Regions from separate parts of the Homo sapiens genome. Here region 2 is linked to region 1. The links come from fine-mapping of genetic effects on gene expression. A gene starts in region 1. The other region holds a variant in brackets. All regions are shown on one strand. Distances are from middle to middle.

Region 1 (5,381 bases):
CTGGTTTTCCCAGTTTCACAACCTGTTGGCTTCTATTTAAATTCTCTTTTTTTTCCTAGCCCCTAGGATTCACTATTTGTTTGAATAGTTTGCCTAGCTTTTTGGTTCAGCTTCTCTCAAGACACAGCCTTCTCATCAGCTTCTCCTATTTGGCCTTAAGCACTGCCGCTCTTGGGCAAATGACTTCTTGCCTGCAACACTGAATCTAGGCTGTAGGCCCTAGAAGGATGTCATACCCTGAATGAAACTTGAATGCTTCCGATTGCTAACTGCTCCACCTCCCTCTCCAGTTGCTCTGACTTGGTTTAGGAGGATGTATTTCACATATCTGCCCCTTCTCGCCTTCTTTCCTGTGTAATCAAACCCTCATCATAGTTTTCTGATTAGGATCCCTTTCTCCAGTCTTTACCCACTCCAGCTAGCCCTCTTCCTTCACCATCACTAGTTCTCTCTCACATTACCTGTCTGAATAAACTTCTTTTTTGAGACAGAGTCTGGCTCTGTTTGCCCAGCCTAGACTGCAGTGGCACGATCTCGGCTCACTGCAACCTCTGCCTCCCGGATTCAAGCGATTCTCCTGCCTCAGCCTCCCGAGTAGCTGGGATTACAAGCATATGCCACCATATCTGGCTAATTTTTGTATTTGTAGTAGAGATGGGGTTTCACTGTGTTGGCCAGGCTGGTCTTGAACTCCTGACCTCCAGTGATCTGCCACCTTGGCTTCCCAAAGTGCTGGGATTACAGGCATGAGCCACTGTGCCTGGCTACCTGTGCGAATAAACTTCTAACAGCTCTACATTGCCTTTCAAAATCTGACTCAATTTACCTTACTACTTCCAAATCGTGCAACTTCTCTGCTTAACTGTAAGCTCCTTCAGGGCACAGACCATGCCTTTTCTTCTGTGTATCCTTAATTTCTTTTTTTTTTATTTCTTTCTTTCTTTCTTTTTTTTTTTTTTGAGACAGAGTCTCACTGTCGCCCAGGCTGGAGTGCAATGGTGCAATCTCGGCTCATGGTAGCCTTCTTCTCCTGGGTTCCAGCGGTTCTTCTGCTTAAGCCTCCAGGGTAGCTGGGATTACAGGCATGCGCCACTACACTTGGCTAATGTTTGTATTTTTAGTAGAGACGGGGTTTCACCATGTTGGCCAGGCTGGTCTCGAACTCCTGACCTCAGGTGATTCACCTGCCTCAGCCTCCCGAAGTGCTGGGATTACAGGCATGAGCCACCACACCCAGCCCCTTAATTTCTTATATAGTGCCTAGCACACAGAAGATGCTCTATAAATAGTTACTGAATGGACAAATGACTAAACTTTGAAACTTCTTTGACCTTACTATGCTCAAATATCACTTCTGATGTTCTTCTCCGACTCTCTCACTTATCTTATATATGTCTGCACACGTTTTTTCCTCATTAGACTGTAAGGTCCCTGAGGGAAAAGACCATGCTTTATTCACCTGTCTCATTCATACCTGACCCAGTGTCTAGAAGAGTGTATAGCACAGAGCAGGCACACAAGCAGTTTGCTGGATGAATGAGTGAATGATACTAAAGAGGAGAAAATACAGACTTTAAGAAGCTCTCCGTATAGTGAGAAAGACTGAGGACCTAAGAGCAATGAAAATAGAAGTTAACAAGTATAAATAAAGAAGGTACAGGTTAATTTAAGTAATCAGATGATGATGCAGAATTCAAATAAAATAGGAGTCAATCAGCAAAGGTTCCCGAAAGGGTGAATTCTGAGAGATATTTGAAAAGAGGAAAGGGACATAACTTGAGAGAGCAGGAGTTTAGGAACATGTCAGAGAGTTAGGTTGAACCAAGGCATGATAAACATGTTTGAAGCTTACATTCTGAGCAGGATCTGTTCTACCCAGACCACAGGTTTCTGCCTTTTTTTCTGGCTCATCAAGCAGGCATGTTTACCCACTCTTTTTATCTTCATGTTTCCCAGGTCAGCCCAATGTGAGGACTTTAAGTAGTAGAAGGAAGTTTCTGTGAAAATATGCAAACAAAACTGCCTTGTGGGATCGAACATTTTTGGTAACCCTAGTTCTCTAGGGAAATAAACTTCCCTGTTCCAGATAAAATGGAACTGCTCCCCGTGTTGTTAAGCCAGAGAGAAAGCCAAATGACTTCCCTTAAAAGGTACTTCAGCGCATTTTACACAAATCATAGTTTTCTGTGTGTGTTATGGGGATCCAAGGAAATCAAAGATGTTAATGAGTGAGATTTGAGAAACAAAACTTGATAGTAGAATTTTGTCTTAGCCACAACTGCCCTTCTCCTCACAGAGTATATGCAAATACCGATGGTGACGGACAGTCACTTTCTAGAGCTCAGATCACTGCTGCCTCCAGCACTTGTGGGATGGAAAAAATGAAGAAATTACAGTTGCCCTAAAAATGTCCCCCACTTCAGGAACCTGAATATTTTACACAGCAGGAGATACATCGGAAGTCCTACAGAATCTCTTGACTTTGGGAGATGCAACTGCTTTTCTATTAGGATAACCTAATTTTCTGTGTCCATTTTCTCAGAATGTTGTGCCCAACGCGTTCTGTTTCCTAAATACCCAGCCTTCCTTCTGGTAGAGGCAAGAAAATTATGCTAGCATTCGCTCACTGCATGTTTTGAGCGTTTGAGTTCAGAGTACAGCTATTCTCTCTCCTCGTAATGTAAACACAGGTTCCCACGGCGGCAATGGGAGACTCCCCTAAGGGGCTCTTGACGTACAGGGAGACTTCCAGATATGGTACACAGATGTCACATTGCTAGAACGTCTCTAGACGGCAACGAAACATTAAAGCCTAACCTGAGGTAATCCCTCACCGGCAGTGAAGCTCCTCTGCTAGGCACTGTCGTCCCGTACACTGCCCAAGCTCTGGGGGTGTCACACTAAACTGTGGTGATGTCACACTAGCTGGGATGACATTTTACAGTTGGATCCCGTACCACCGCCAGGCACCTTTAAATCACCGCAGAGTCTGCAGTGCGGAGGGGGCGGGAAGTCCAGGCCCCGCACTCGATCCACGCTGGCTCCCTACGGAGGCCCACCTACTCGAGGCCCACCGACTCCTACTGCAATCAGTACTATGCGATCGTCCTAGAGAGTCCATTCAGCTGCACTTCCGCCTCAGTAGGTGTCATGGCGCGGGGCGGGTGAATAGTTCCGGCGAGGCGGGGCCGGCCGGGTTGAGGGACGGCCGCTCGGCATTCCGTTCGTCGGGTCTGGCGACAACGGCGGCTGCGGAGCAAGGGGCCCGGCGGTAGCCCCGGACGGCAGCAGGAGGCCGAGGCGGGAGCGCGCGGGGCTGAGGCGGCGGCGGCGGCGGCGGGAAGGGGCTGGGTGGTGGAGCGGGAGGGAGGCTGAGGAGGCTCCCCCTGCGGGACGGGCGCGGGGACGGCTCCGGGGGGCGGGGGCCGGGGCCCGGGCCGGCTCGCGCGGGGGGTATGATGACCCGGCTGCGGGGCCCCAGATCTCGTCTCCTCCGCCGCCTCCTCACGGCAGCCCCAGCTCGCGGCTGAGAACCAGACACACCGGCGGTGAGTGGGGACGGGCAGGAGGGGTCCTCGGCGGGGAGCGACTTCCCCTCAGCTCCCTGAGGCGGGGCCGGGCCGGCCGCCGGCTCTCCTGGAGCGCCCAGCCTGCCGGGGGCGCCTTCCTCAAAGGGCCCCTGCCTGGGACCGGGCGCCGCGTCTTGCGGCCCGGCCGCTCACTGCCGCTGAGGGGATTGCCTTCCCAGGAAGGTGGGGAGGCTCCGGGCTGGTTTTCGGGGCAACTCCCCCTGCCTCCTGCCACTTCTCGCCTGGGCGTGTTGTCCTTAAGTGACAGGGGACCGCCTTGCGTCTCCTCACTCGGCCGGTTTTTTCCCCGGCTGTCGTGGCAGGTTCCCAGTGTGTGGCTTGTGCGTGTGTACTTCACAGCTCCGCTTATCACCATGGTTTTGGGTTATTTGTGCTGTTTGGGACCAGGAAGCCGTGCCTGGAGAGGACGACAGTGGGGTGGGTGTGGAAGCTTTTCTGTCGTCTCCGCTGATGTTCTGTAGTCGTTAGGCTTGTAATTCGTAATGACGGTGGAGACTACGTGAGACCAGCCCACCTAATGTATATCTGTACAAGGGAGATCTAGAGGTCTGGCCCAAAGGGAAACTTTTGCTGCCACCACTTTCAAAGCTTTCGTTAAAAAAACAAAAGGGAGGGGGAAGGTGGAGAAACAACCAAAATTCTGGTAAGGCCCACACTGTTCACAGGTCTGTGGGGAAGAGTCCCCTTTTTGTGCTTAGCAACCAAGACGTGGAGTTCCGTCTCCAGGAGCGTTGGTCTAACCTCCAGTTTGTTGTGGTGACGAGCTGTGAGCAATGGCCTGTGTTTATGCTGGGCGAGCTTTCTTTCCTACTTGGGGAGGGGGGTTCAGGATGGGAGGATGCGGGTAGGGAAGAGGGGGGGAAAACCCCCAAGCTCCAGTAAGTCTTTTCTTTACTTAATCACTGATTCTGTTGTAGGTAGACTCATTTAGAGGCAGTCCTAGATGCTCTTTCTTGTCTATTAGTGACACTTTGGGAATTCTCAGTAATTGCATCAACATAATACTTTCAGCTATAGACTCTCTGTCCCAATCTGTCCTTTATCTTGTTTCTTAGTAACTGGTGAAAACAGCAGTGTGGCTTCCCGCTCTTGATGAAATAGGGTTAAATTAAGTGGCTGATGCCCTCAGCAAACCTACAATTTTCCTTTTGTTTGTGTAAAGCTATTTTTGATCTCTGGTCTGTGGGTTTTTTTTTTTTTTTTGTAAGATTATAGAGAATGCAAACTATTACTAGCTTTTTTCATATGGAAGCCTAAAGCTTTCTATAAAACATTTTAAAATCTAACAAATCATTTGACCTAATTTTCATTATTCAGCTGGTGATTTTGGATCTTTACATGTAATTATCTCAGGGTTCTGTGTTATAATACTGTTATGATGAAGGGTGGCATTGACTTTAAGATACTGTTCCTGGCTTGAAAGATATTTTAGTAAAGTACTTGCGGTTGGAACTGGAGGCAGCCAAGCCAGTAAAGTATCTTAGAATAAAATGGTGAATGAGATCTTATAAATATACTGGCTCTGGTTGGCAAGTAGAACTTTTGCTGGTGATACCTTCATGAATAGTTTATCTCTCGACACTGTAGTTTTGTGGTTTTTTGAGCAAGTTCGTTGGTAACTTGAGACTTCAAACCAAACCAGAACTTCCTTCTAAAAGAAAAAAAAAGAAGAGATAATCTCAAAGTTCACAATTCTTTGGAAAATAAACTTCTTTCATTCTGTGCTTTTGTTTTTATAAGCACAGCTCCATCAATGATTTGTTGGTACAAATCAGTGAGTCATACCGGCCT
Region 2 (5,381 bases), 44 kb after region 1:
ACTCTGACTCTTCTTTGAGCAGCCCTTATTCCACTGATACCCTGAGTGCTCTCCGAGGCAATAGTGGATCCGTTTTGGAGGGGCCTGGCAGAGTTGTGGCAGATGGCACTGGCACCCGCACTATCATTGTGCCTCCACTGAAAACTCAGCTTGGTGACTGCACTGTAGCAACCCAGGCCTCAGGTCAGTGTTATCTTCACAGCTTGAGTTGAATTCTCCTTTGATGTGTGAATGCTTAAATATTTTGCCATAATCCACTTATATCAGTGGTAGAGACCAGTGGTGTAGACATTCTTAAAGAGACCTTAATTCAGAAATCAGTTCCCTGCACAATGTGAAATTATTTTTGGCCATCACTTTATCTTCCTGTGTTTATTTTGCTTGGATTAATATACAAATGAGATTGTAGTCTCAGAAACACATTCAGTGCTGATGGGAGAAAGCAGACAAGACGTGTGATATTGCAAGAAGAATTAGCAGGCAATTAGGTTTGCCACAGATGATTTGAATTTGGCAATTGAGATGTAGACAGGACTTGATAATATTGAAAATGACTGCAAAAGTGTTTTGGAAAACAGTTATATTCTTTAGATTTTTTTCTCACCCAGTGTCATAGCAGTGATGCTTTTGATGGTTTTATTACCAACCCAATTACTTCCATCATCTTTGCCCTGTTAGATACTGGACTTAAGCTCCCTGGTTTAGTTATTGTGTTAGTTGGGTAATAGCAGTTGCAGTAACAAATCCTAGATTTTTGTAGCATAACATAGTAGAATTTTACTTCTCTCTCATATAATTTCTTGGTACAAGTGTTTGATTCCTGAGCATCCAGTCAGAAGGAGAAAGAAAGTGTGAAGGAGGCACACACATGTCTTAACCTCTTTAGGCTGGAAATAAGTGGAAATAGTGAATGCTTCTCACATGGCCCCACCTAGATGCAAGTGAGCCCAGGCAATGTAGTCTTGTTAAGGCAGCTGCTTTTCAGTGACAACTTCATACCAAGGAAGGGGTTGGTGAAGTTTAGGTGTCAACATAAACCTGGGCCATACTTGTATAAATTATGTTTTATTATGTATTATCTTACTGCCATAGACATAAACAGGGTTGTAATTTGAGGGTATTGTGTTATGCCTCTGTGTGATTCTTTTCAGAAGTAGACAGTTGTCCCATTGCAGACAAGAGAGAGAGCTTCCTGATGCCAGGCTACTGAATAGAATTATTAGTACCTCCGTGTGCTCTTGGGTCCAGAGAATATAGGCTATCACATGAGACACTGAATAAATGCTCTGGTTTTCCTAATGGGAACACAGAAGCAAGCAAAATTTCACATTCAGCTGTCCTGTAATTTCTAAGAATTTGAAGACAGTAAGTGTCCAACAAGATAGAATTTTGCCTTCTTTTAAACCCTCTTGCCACTTTAATATCCTAAGAATTACCAATAGCTTTCTCAGCTTCACATTATCATTTCTGTGCTTGTTTAATCCCTTCCTACATAAAACTATAAACTCTTGGAGAGAGGGATGGTGTCTTAGCATATTTGTATTTCCAGTCGTTCCTTGTATATAACAAGAGATTATAGTTAAAATATTTATAATATTTATTTAAGTGAACATTTTGAGGATCCTATGTGGAGATTTGTGCCAAGACAGAAAAGAAATGGGTGATAACAGGTTATTTTCTTCTGATGTAAATAGAATTGAGACCTTAATGCTTGCAAACTACATACAGATGTGGACTAATTAATATGATGCCATCTGAGGTTAGCTCAGTGATGTCTACTCATAACTATTAAGCCTGGTGCTTTTTTAGGTCTCCTGAGCAATAAGACTAAGCCAGTCGCTTCAGTGAGTGGGCAGTCATCTGGATGCTGTATCACCCCCACAGGGTATCGAGCTCAACGCGGGGGGACCAGTGCAGCACAACCACTCAATCTTAGCCAGGTAAGTGCTATGGGCTACTGCCTTCTGTTTGGGCCCTGCACTGTTGTTACTTTCTGGAGAACCCTGCTTCTGGCTGGATGCTGAATAAAGCCAAATGAAGCCCCTTTTGTGTCAAACAATTTTGTGTTCTATGGCTTACGTCGTACCGCATATGCTGTGTCTCTTCATTCACTCTGTAAGTGTGTTCAGGATGTACATTCTAGGTTTTCCATCAGACCTCCCTAAGTCTACCCTGGAAGGTTAGAGAAACGTCTGGGATTTAGAAAGAGCCTGGGGTGCTTTAACCATGTCTGTGATAGGCATATGCTTTGAGACCAGATTCTCTTTATCCCCCAGGCCATAAGTAAGCTGATCCTTACATTGTTTACTTGAGTCAAGAGATTGTGAAAAGCTCATTGGCCACCAAATTCAACTGGTTCTAGGTCCTACTTGTTGCTGGAGTCTGCGATTTGGGACTTCCCCACTCTCCGAACACCCCCAGCCCCAACCTACCCTTCTGCTTCTCTCATTACTTTATTCTATTTGTGTTCACTCTTAGAAGCTAAAATTCGAGTGCTTGTATGATGTCCACCAGTAGTGAGAAAGTGTCAGTATGAGGGTATGTGAGAGAGAGCACATGCAAGTGAAAATGTAAGTTTGAGTTAGTGCATGTATTTTAGTTTCCACATTTCAAGAGGGGTATGAAGAACTTAGAGGACGAAAACAAAAGAAAGCAATGGTAAGAAATAAAGGCTAGGAAAAATTCAAATTTACTGACGCCAGAATAGGGTGAGTTGAGTCACCAGTTATTAACTTGCAGGAGTGGGGAACCCTATGATCTCTTGATTCTCCCTCTTCCTGTCATACTTACAAGCAAAATGCTGTTACCTGAGCCAGATTAGGATCTATCTTGCTAAGAGGCAGAAGGAGGGGTGGCTGATTTCTGACAGCATTCAATGCCAGTGTGGGAGATTATGTGCTATACCCATTCGAAAACAGTACAAGTCAGAACCTGAGCTCTTAACTTGGCCTTTGGTGCCCTGAGCTGGAGTGACCTCAGGATTCCTCACTTCTTCCTTCTTTCTTCCAGAACCAGCAGTCATCGGCGGCTCCAACCTCACAGGAGAGAAGCAGCAACCCAGCCCCCCGCAGGCAGCAGGC[G/A]TTTGTGGCCCCTCTCTCCCAAGCCCCCTACACCTTCCAGCATGGCAGCCCGCTACACTCGACAGGGCACCCACACCTTGCCCCGGCCCCTGCTCACCTGCCAAGCCAGGCTCATCTGTATACGTATGCTGCCCCGACTTCTGCTGCTGCACTGGGCTCAACCAGCTCCATTGCTCATCTTTTCTCCCCACAGGGTTCCTCAAGGCATGCTGCAGCCTATACCACTCACCCTAGCACTTTGGTGCACCAGGTCCCTGTCAGTGTTGGGCCCAGCCTCCTCACTTCTGCCAGCGTGGCCCCTGCTCAGTACCAACACCAGTTTGCCACCCAATCCTACATTGGGTCTTCCCGAGGCTCAACAATTTACACTGGATACCCGCTGAGTCCTACCAAGATCAGCCAGTATTCCTACTTATAGTTGGTGAGCATGAGGGAGGAGGAATCATGGCTACCTTCTCCTGGCCCTGCGTTCTTAATATTGGGCTATGGAGAGATCCTCCTTTACCCTCTTGAAATTTCTTAGCCAGCAACTTGTTCTGCAGGGGCCCACTGAAGCAGAAGGTTTTTCTCTGGGGGAACCTGTCTCAGTGTTGACTGCATTGTTGTAGTCTTCCCAAAGTTTGCCCTATTTTTAAATTCATTATTTTTGTGACAGTAATTTTGGTACTTGGAAGAGTTCAGATGCCCATCTTCTGCAGTTACCAAGGAAGAGAGATTGTTCTGAAGTTACCCTCTGAAAAATATTTTGTCTCTCTGACTTGATTTCTATAAATGCTTTTAAAAACAAGTGAAGCCCCTCTTTATTTCATTTTGTGTTATTGTGATTGCTGGTCAGGAAAAATGCTGATAGAAGGAGTTGAAATCTGATGACAAAAAAAGAAAAATTACTTTTTGTTTGTTTATAAACTCAGACTTGCCTATTTTATTTTAAAAGCGGCTTACACAATCTCCCTTTTGTTTATTGGACATTTAAACTTACAGAGTTTCAGTTTTGTTTTAATGTCATATTATACTTAATGGGCAATTGTTATTTTTGCAAAACTGGTTACGTATTACTCTGTGTTACTATTGAGATTCTCTCAATTGCTCCTGTGTTTGTTATAAAGTAGTGTTTAAAAGGCAGCTCACCATTTGCTGGTAACTTAATGTGAGAGAATCCATATCTGCGTGAAAACACCAAGTATTCTTTTTAAATGAAGCACCATGAATTCTTTTTTAAATTATTTTTTAAAAGTCTTTCTCTCTCTGATTCAGCTTAAATTTTTTTATCGAAAAAGCCATTAAGGTGGTTATTATTACATGGTGGTGGTGGTTTTATTATATGCAAAATCTCTGTCTATTATGAGATACTGGCATTGATGAGCTTTGCCTAAAGATTAGTATGAATTTTCAGTAATACACCTCTGTTTTGCTCATCTCTCCCTTCTGTTTTATGTGATTTGTTTGGGGAGAAAGCTAAAAAAACCTGAAACCAGATAAGAACATTTCTTGTGTATAGCTTTTATACTTCAAAGTAGCTTCCTTTGTATGCCAGCAGCAAATTGAATGCTCTCTTATTAAGACTTATATAATAAGTGCATGTAGGAATTGCAAAAAATATTTTAAAAATTTATTACTGAATTTAAAAATATTTTAGAAGTTTTGTAATGGTGGTGTTTTAATATTTTACATAATTAAATATGTACATATTGATTAGAAAAATATAACAAGCAATTTTTCCTGCTAACCCAAAATGTTATTTGTAATCAAATGTGTAGTGATTACACTTGAATTGTGTACTTAGTGTGTATGTGATCCTCCAGTGTTATCCCGGAGATGGATTGATGTCTCCATTGTATTTAAACCAAAATGAACTGATACTTGTTGGAATGTATGTGAACTAATTGCAATTATATTAGAGCATATTACTGTAGTGCTGAATGAGCAGGGGCATTGCCTGCAAGGAGAGGAGACCCTTGGAATTGTTTTGCACAGGTGTGTCTGGTGAGGAGTTTTTCAGTGTGTGTCTCTTCCTTCCCTTTCTTCCTCCTTCCCTTATTGTAGTGCCTTATATGATAATGTAGTGGTTAATAGAGTTTACAGTGAGCTTGCCTTAGGATGGACCAGCAAGCCCCCGTGGACCCTAAGTTGTTCACCGGGATTTATCAGAACAGGATTAGTAGCTGTATTGTGTAATGCATTGTTCTCAGTTTCCCTGCCAACATTGAAAAATAAAAACAGCAGCTTTTCTCCTTTACCACCACCTCTACCCCTTTCCATTTTGGATTCTCGGCTGAGTTCTCACAGAAGCATTTTCCCCAT

The links. PIP is the estimated chance that this variant, and not a neighbour inherited with it, causes the effect.
Region 2: its variant is fine-mapped to the expression of HIPK1 in whole blood (TOPMed, PIP above 0.99).

What each region holds. Positions count from the first base shown.
Region 1 is chr1:113,926,392-113,931,772 of GRCh38, forward strand. It overlaps HIPK1 (homeodomain interacting protein kinase 1), which reads left to right and starts at 2,933. Exons shown (of 16, transcript NM_198268.3): 1 at 2,933-3,141. HIPK1-AS1 (HIPK1 antisense RNA 1) reads right to left here and starts at 3,134. Exons shown (of 3, transcript NR_110726.1): 1 at 2,971-3,134; 2 at 1,853-1,997. RefSeq lists an enhancer at 2,844-3,163 and silencers at 3,284-3,333, 3,354-3,663.
Region 2 is chr1:113,970,015-113,975,395 of GRCh38, forward strand. HIPK1 (homeodomain interacting protein kinase 1) reads left to right here. Exons shown (of 16, transcript NM_198268.3): 14 at 1-183; 15 at 1,810-1,940; 16 at 3,010-5,381. The coding sequence ends at 3,498. Among named protein-coding and RNA genes, the nearest start is that of OLFML3, 6.8 kb to the right of the region's middle. The variant G/A (reference allele first, on the strand shown) is at 3,081.